2 linked regions of the Homo sapiens genome follow. The protein of the gene in region 1 purifies or fractionates together with the protein of each later gene. This does not show direct contact. Each region holds a gene or a part of one and is shown in the gene's direction. Other genes may lie near its edges.

Region 1 (3,500 bases):
GTCTGCAGAGTTGGCGATTGGGGCAGGATTCCATGGCTGATACCATGCCAGTCACACTGCAGCTAGCATTCTCTGCTTTCCATTGCCTCCTGTTGCCCATCAGCCTGGTGGTCCATCCGTCATTCTGGCCAAAAGTGGCCAGCTCCATTCACCAGAACATAGTTTTTCTTCTCATTCAACCAACTGATGATCTTGAAGATCTCGATATGCATGAGCTCTCATTATTGGCTCCCTTTCCTTGACCCTCCCTGGTGACATTTCTTTCCTTTCCACTTGACCCCAACAGACATCTCAGCCAAGCCCTGGTGGTCAGTCTTCATGCAGCAGCCAACAGTCCCCCATCAGCAACTATTCCAACAGTGGGCTCGAGCTTCCTCTGACCGATGGAGGTAGTATAGGAGACCTCAGTGCCATCGATGAAACCCCAATCATGGACTCAACCATTTCCACTGCAACCACAGCCCTTGCTTTGCAAGCCAGGAGAAACCCGGCAGGGACCAAATGGATGGAGCACGTAAAACTAGAAAGGCTAAAACAAGTGAATGGAATGTTTCCGCGACTGAACCCCATTCTACCCCCTAAAGCCCCTGCGGTCTCTCCTCTCATAGGAAATGGTGAGTTCTACATCAGACCATGCATCTGCTCAGGGTTTTTTTTTCTGTTCTTTTAAATGCAGGCCCTCAGTTTTATGTTTGCTAGTTTCTCCACCAGTCCTAAAATGACGCTGTAACCATCCGTTAATGTTTAGCCCATTCAAGTTGCCTTTTGGGATTGTCCATATTTTAAAAACAGCTAGGAACAGGATAATATTGAGAAAAAAATGTGACTGTGCATGACTCATATTCTGATGGTGAAATCATAACTGTTAGATTAGGGTAAGGGAATGCCAGCAGTGGAGGCATCTGTGGTTGGAACTCTGTCTCTGGTTTCCAAAATTTAAAACCACGAGGTTAGCAGCCACTTTTATTTATATTTACCCAGTTCAAGGAAAGTCAGAAATCCCTCCCCACTGTCAGTCCCCAGGTCAGTTTGCACTTCTGAGATTACACTTCTGAGAGCACCTAAGGGGTGAAGCTCTTGCCTGCACCAACACAGGTGTTACCTGTTGGTAGGATGTGGCATGAACAGGACGCCCTGAGCGTGAATGTGAAACTCGTGGAGTACCTTTGCCTGGGGACTTGCCTGGAACTCAAGCGTTGTGTACCATCACAAGATTCTTTTTGTCCTTGCACAGCGCTTGGGGAGGGGCTTCAGTGAATCGAGGGAGTTGTTATTGTTTTGTTTAAGCCAGGCATCAGCAAACTACAGCCTGCGGCCATCTCCAGCCGCCCCTGTTTTTGTAAAGGAAGCTTCATGGACACCCCGCCACGCTTGCTTGCTCACTGCTCTCTGTGGCCGTGTTGGGGCTACACTGCAGAGCTGAGTAGTTGTGAGGCAGGCAATGTGGCCTGGGACACCAGAAATAGTTCCTAGCTGGCCCTTTACAGAAAAGGGTTGCTCATGCCTGGTGTAAGTCATGCTCGAAGGGAATTCATCTCCGCATGGTCTCTCCCTTTCTCTGTCTCCAGGCACACAGTCCAACAACACCTGCAGCTTGGGTGGGCCCATGACGCTTCTCCCGGGCAGAAGCGACCTCTCTGGGGTGGACGTCACTATGCTGAACATGCTCAACAGAAGGGACAGCAGCGCCAGCACCATCAGCTCGGCCTACCTGAGCAGCCGCCGCTCCTCAGGGATCTCGCCCTGCTTCTCCAGCCGCCGCTCCAGCGAGGCGTCACAGGCCGAGGGCCGGCCGCAGAACGTGAGCGTGGCCGACTCCTACGACCCCATCTCCACCGACGCCTCGCGCCGCTCCAGCGAAGCCAGCCAGAGCGACGGCCTGCCCAGCCTGCTCAGCCTCACGCCCGCCCAGCAGTACCGCCTCAAGGCCAAGTACGCGGCTGCCACAGGAGGGCCGCCGCCGACGCCCCTGCCCAACATGGAGAGGATGAGCCTGAAGACGCGCCTGGCGCTGCTCGGGGATGCCCTCGAGCCTGGCGTGGCCCTGCCTCCAGTTCATGCCCCGAGGAGGTGCAGCGACGGGGGAGCCCACGGCTACGGGCGGCGCCACCTGCAGCCGCACGATGCGCCGGGCCACGGCGTGAGGAGGGCCAGCGACCCGGTGCGGACAGGCTCCGAGGGCCTGGCCCTGCCTCGTGTGCCGCGCTTCAGCAGCCTCAGCAGCTGCAACCCCCCGGCGATGGCCACGTCCGCGGAGAAGCGCAGTCTCGTGCTTCAGAATTACACGCGGCCCGAGGGCGGCCAGTCCCGAAACTTCCACTCGTCCCCCTGTCCTCCCAGCATCACCGAGAACGTCACCCTGGAGTCCCTGACCATGGACGCTGATGCCAACCTGAACGATGAGGATTTCCTGCCGGACGACGTGGTGCAGTATTTAAATTCCCAGAACCAAGCAGGGTACGAGCAGCACTTCCCCAGCGCCCTCCCGGACGACAGCAAAGTGCCCCACGGGCCCGGTGACTTTGACGCGCCCGGGCTGCCAGACAGCCACGCTGGCCAGCAGTTCCATGCCCTCGAGCAGCCCTGCCCCGAGGGCAGCAAAACCGACCTGCCCATTCAGTGGAACGAAGTCAGCTCCGGAAGCGCCGACCTGTCCTCCTCCAAGCTCAAGTGTGGGCCGCGGCCCGCTGTGCCGCAGACTCGCGCCTTTGGGTTCTGCAACGGCATGGTCGTCCACCCGCAGAACCCCTTGAGGAGCGGGCCTGCTGGGGGCTATCAGACCCTCGGGGAGAACAGCAACCCCTACGGTGGCCCAGAGCACTTGATGCTCCACAACAGCCCCGGAAGTGGCACCAGTGGAAACGCCTTCCATGAACAGCCCTGTAAGGCCCCGCAGTATGGGAACTGTCTCAACAGGCAGCCAGTGGCCCCTGGTGCACTCGACGGTGCCTGTGGTGCCGGGATTCAAGCCTCAAAGCTGAAGAGCACCCCCATGCAAGGGAGCGGGGGCCAGCTGAATTTCGGCCTGCCGGTAGCGCCAAATGAGTCAGCTGGCAGCATGGTGAATGGCATGCAGAACCAGGACCCAGTGGGACAGGGGTACCTGGCTCACCAGCTCCTCGGCGACAGCATGCAGCACCCGGGGGCAGGCCGCCCCGGTCAGCAGATGCTTGGGCAGATTAGTGCTACCTCACACATCAACATCTACCAAGGGCCAGAGAGCTGCCTGCCAGGGGCTCACGGCATGGGCAGCCAGCCGTCAAGCTTGGCAGTTGTCAGGGGCTACCAGCCATGTGCCAGCTTTGGGGGCAGCAGGCGCCAGGCTATGCCGAGGGACAGCCTTGCTCTGCAGTCAGGACAGCTCAGTGACACAAGTCAGACCTGCAGGGTGAATGGTATCAAGATGGAGATGAAAGGGCAGCCCCATCCGCTGTGCTCTAATCTGCAGAATTACTCTGGTCAGTTCTATGACCAAACCGTGGGCTTCAGTCAGCAAGACA
Region 2 (3,500 bases), on another chromosome or scaffold:
CCTTCATCTGCACAGCCAAAAGCAAGGTGTGCAGGTCAGGGAGTGGGGATGGAGGAAGTCTGTCTTCTGGGGTCTCTGAGCCCCACCCATGACCCCCTTTCGCCTTGCCCTGCAGTCCCCAGCCTATACCCTGGTGTGGACCCGCCTGCACAACGGGAAACTGCCCACCCGAGCCATGGATTTCAATGGCATCCTGACCATTCGCAACGTCCAGCTGAGTGATGCAGGCACCTACGTGTGCACCGGCTCCAACATGTTTGCCATGGACCAGGGCACAGCCACTCTACATGTGCAGGGTACACCTCCCATCTATACCTGATTCTCCCCTCCTGTCTCTCCCCCATTCCCACCAGAATTAGCACAGCATTTCTTCATTCTGCTGATCATTTCTGAGCACCTGCTGCATGCCTGGTCCTGGTCTAGGCTCTGCAGAAGCAGGGGAGAGAAGCATGTACAGTATCTCGGTCCTCCTGAAGTACACGTCCTAGGCAGGGAGACCATAAGCATGGGAATAAATGAACAAGCAAGATAACTACACATGGCGATGAGTGCCAGGCTAGGAATGATGAGAAAGCAAGAAACAAGGTGGGAGAAGGCCAGGAGCGGTGGCTCACACCTGTAAGCCCAGCACTTTGGGAGGCTGAGGCAGGTGGATCACTTGAGGTCAGGAGTTCCAGACCAGCCTGGCCAACAGGTGAAACCCTGTCTCTACTAAAAATACAAAAACTAGCTGGGTGTGGTGGCAGGTGCCTATAATCCCAGCTACTCAGGAGGCTGAGGCAGGAGAATCGCTTGAACCCGGGAGGCTTAGGTTGCAGTGAGCCGAGATCGCGCCACTGCACTCCAGCCTGGGTGACAGAGCAAGAATCCATCTCAGAAAAATAAATAAAATAAAACAAGGTGGGAGAGGCAAGGGCTACTCTAGATAGGGCAGTCAGGGAGGGCCTCTCTGAGGAGGTGACACCTAAGCTGAGACCTGAAGGAAAGGTAGGCATTGAGCAAGTTAGAGAGTTGGCAGAGTGTTCTTGGCAGAGGGAGCAGCACATGGCAAGGCCCTGAGGCAGGAGCACGTTGCTATGTTTGAGGAACAGCAGAGACCACGTGGCTGGGGCTGTGGGAGGGAGGACGGGTGTGGGCAGACGGGAGAGCATGGAGTATGTGGTGGATCAGGGTAGGAATTTTGGATTTTATTCTAAAAGCAACAGGGAGTCATGGACAGGTCTCAAGGTGGGAGGTCACAAGGTCCTGTTGACATTTCCCAAGCTCCCTCTGGCTCCTGTGTGCACAGATGGCCGTGGAGGGCTAGCCTGGAAGCAGAGAAAGTAGGCAGCAGGACTGTTGTGTGAGTCAGACGACACTCCCCACCCTGAGTGCATGTTCCTTTTCCTCCCTTGTCAGCCTCGGGCACCTTGTCCGCCCCCGTGGTCTCCATCCATCCGCCACAGCTCACAGTGCAGCCCGGGCAACTGGCGGAGTTCCGCTGCAGCGCCACAGGGAGCCCCACGCCCACCCTCGAGTGGACAGGTGAGGCCGTGATGGGAATGACATTCAAGGCCTGACTCTCCTGGGTGTGGGAGGGGAGGGGCAGGACTCTGAGCAGGCTTGGTGGGTGCTGACCCCACGTCTACTCGTCAGGGGGCCCCGGCGGCCAGCTCCCTGCGAAGGCACAAATCCACGGCGGCATCCTGCGCCTGCCAGCTGTCGAGCCCACGGATCAGGCCCAGTACTTGTGCCGAGCCCACAGCAGCGCTGGGCAGCAGGTGGCCAGGGCTGTGCTCCACGTGCATGGTGAGAGGCCGGGCTCAGGGTGGGGGCCGGGAGTGTGCTCAGCCCAGGGCGTGTTCTCACAGGACTCTGTCTGCAGGGGGCGGTGGGCCCAGAGTCCAAGTGAGCCCAGAGAGGACCCAGGTCCACGCAGGCCGCACCGTCAGGCTGTACTGCAGGGCTGCAGGCGTGCCTAGCGCCACCATCACCTGGAGGAAGGAAGGGGGCAGCCTCCCACCACAGGTGAGGAGATGGGCCCACCCAGGAGGAGGAGGCCCACAGGCTCTGCAGAGAGTCCCAGCCACCTTCCCTCCCCCTTCACGCCCCACCCCACCTCCTCCTCTGTGGCTCCCTTCACCTCCAAGATGGTGGTCTCCTGCCCCTGCATCCCAGCAGGGAGCCCCTGCCGTCCTCTTGGCTGCCTGGCGTTTGTCCTCCTTCATGCCCCACTGGGCCCTAATATTGGCCCTGCACCTGCCTCTCCCTTTTATGCCCTATCTGTCCCCCTGGCCAGCCGTTGTCCAGCTGCCTCTGGGGCAGCTGACCCATCTCACCCACGGCAGGCCCGGTCAGAGCGCACAGACATCGCGACACTGCTCATCCCAGCCATCACGACTGCTGACGCCGGCTTCTACCTCTGCGTGGCCACCAGCCCTGCAGGCACTGCCCAGGCCCGGATCCAAGTGGTTGTCCTTTCAGGTACGGACTCTCTGGGAATGGAGGGGTGGGGAGGGCAAGCCAGGGCTCCCCTGGGGCCTGCTGACCCCTACTCTGGCCCCAGCCTCAGATGCCAGCCCACCGCCGGTCAAGATTGAGTCCTCATCGCCTTCTGTGACAGAAGGGCAAACACTCGACCTCAACTGTGTGGTGGCAGGGTCAGCCCATGCCCAGGTCACCTGGTACAGGCGAGGGGGTAGCCTGCCTCCCCACACCCAGGTATGTGGGCCCTGAGCCTATGGCAGGGGACCCAGGGTGCAGGGGCTGTGGCGGAGGCGGGGCCTGTACGCTGGGCGGGGGAGGCGGCACACTGCCCCACACGTTCCACCAGCAGAAGCCAGGCCTCATCTCCCTCCCTCCCAGTTTCTAGCATGGGATGGCTCGGAGCAGAGCCAGTGAGAGTTTGAATGAATCACTGAGGCTGAGGGAGTGGTGACAATAGCCCCCGTCCCTGTCCTCACGTACCTCTGGCTCCTCCTGGCCCAGGTGCACGGCTCCCGTCTGCGGCTCCCCCAGGTCTCACCAGCTGATTCTGGAGAATATGTGTGCCGTGTGGAGAATGGATCGGGCCCCAAGGAGGCCTCCATTACTGTGTCTGTGCTCCACGGCACCCATTCTGGCCCCAGCTACACCCCAGGTGAGGAGCCAGGTGTGGCTGGGCCGGGGCTGAGCCCTAGGAGCTCCCAAGGAAGATGCCTGTGGCTTCTTCAGTGGGACCAGGACAGGGGGGCATTCCAGGCAGGCTTTGACCCTTCAGCGCCTGCTCAGAGAGAGAAGGAGGTTGAGTGGACGGGAGGGAGGTTAAGGCTGGTCCAGCTTACCTGGGCTCCCTATGAGTGACTGTTTCAGAATTTGTCAGGAAGCAGCAGAATGTCCAGGTTGAATACTAAGCTGGGAGTCGGCTGACCTGGTTCAAATCCCAGATCTGCCCCTTAGCAACCTTGAACTAGCTTTTAACTTTTGGGGCCTCAGATTCATCTATGAAATGGAGCAGTACTGCCCACCTGCTTGGTCATGGT

Evidence for each region. The genes of interacting proteins can lie anywhere in the genome.
Region 2: the proteins of GLI3 (region 1) and HSPG2 purify together in Homo sapiens (affinity purification with mass spectrometry; one large-scale study listed by BioGRID and IntAct). This does not show direct contact.

What each region holds. Positions count from the first base shown.
Region 1 is NC_000007.14:41,964,710-41,968,209, reverse strand, and holds part of GLI3 (transcriptional activator GLI3), read left to right. Parts: intron 1-286; coding exon 287-614; intron 615-1,568; coding exon 1,569-3,500. UniProt on the Homo sapiens protein: Has a dual function as a transcriptional activator and a repressor of the sonic hedgehog (Shh) pathway, and plays a role in limb development.
Region 2 is NC_000001.11:21,853,811-21,857,310, reverse strand, and holds part of HSPG2 (basement membrane-specific heparan sulfate proteoglycan core protein isoform b precursor), read left to right. Parts: coding exon 1-26; intron 27-115; coding exon 116-296; intron 297-1,398; coding exon 1,399-1,524; intron 1,525-1,635; coding exon 1,636-1,788; intron 1,789-1,864; coding exon 1,865-2,007; intron 2,008-2,327; coding exon 2,328-2,463; intron 2,464-2,545; coding exon 2,546-2,700; intron 2,701-2,967; coding exon 2,968-3,118; intron 3,119-3,500. UniProt on the Homo sapiens protein: Integral component of basement membranes. Component of the glomerular basement membrane (GBM), responsible for the fixed negative electrostatic membrane charge, and which provides a barrier which is both size- and charge-selective.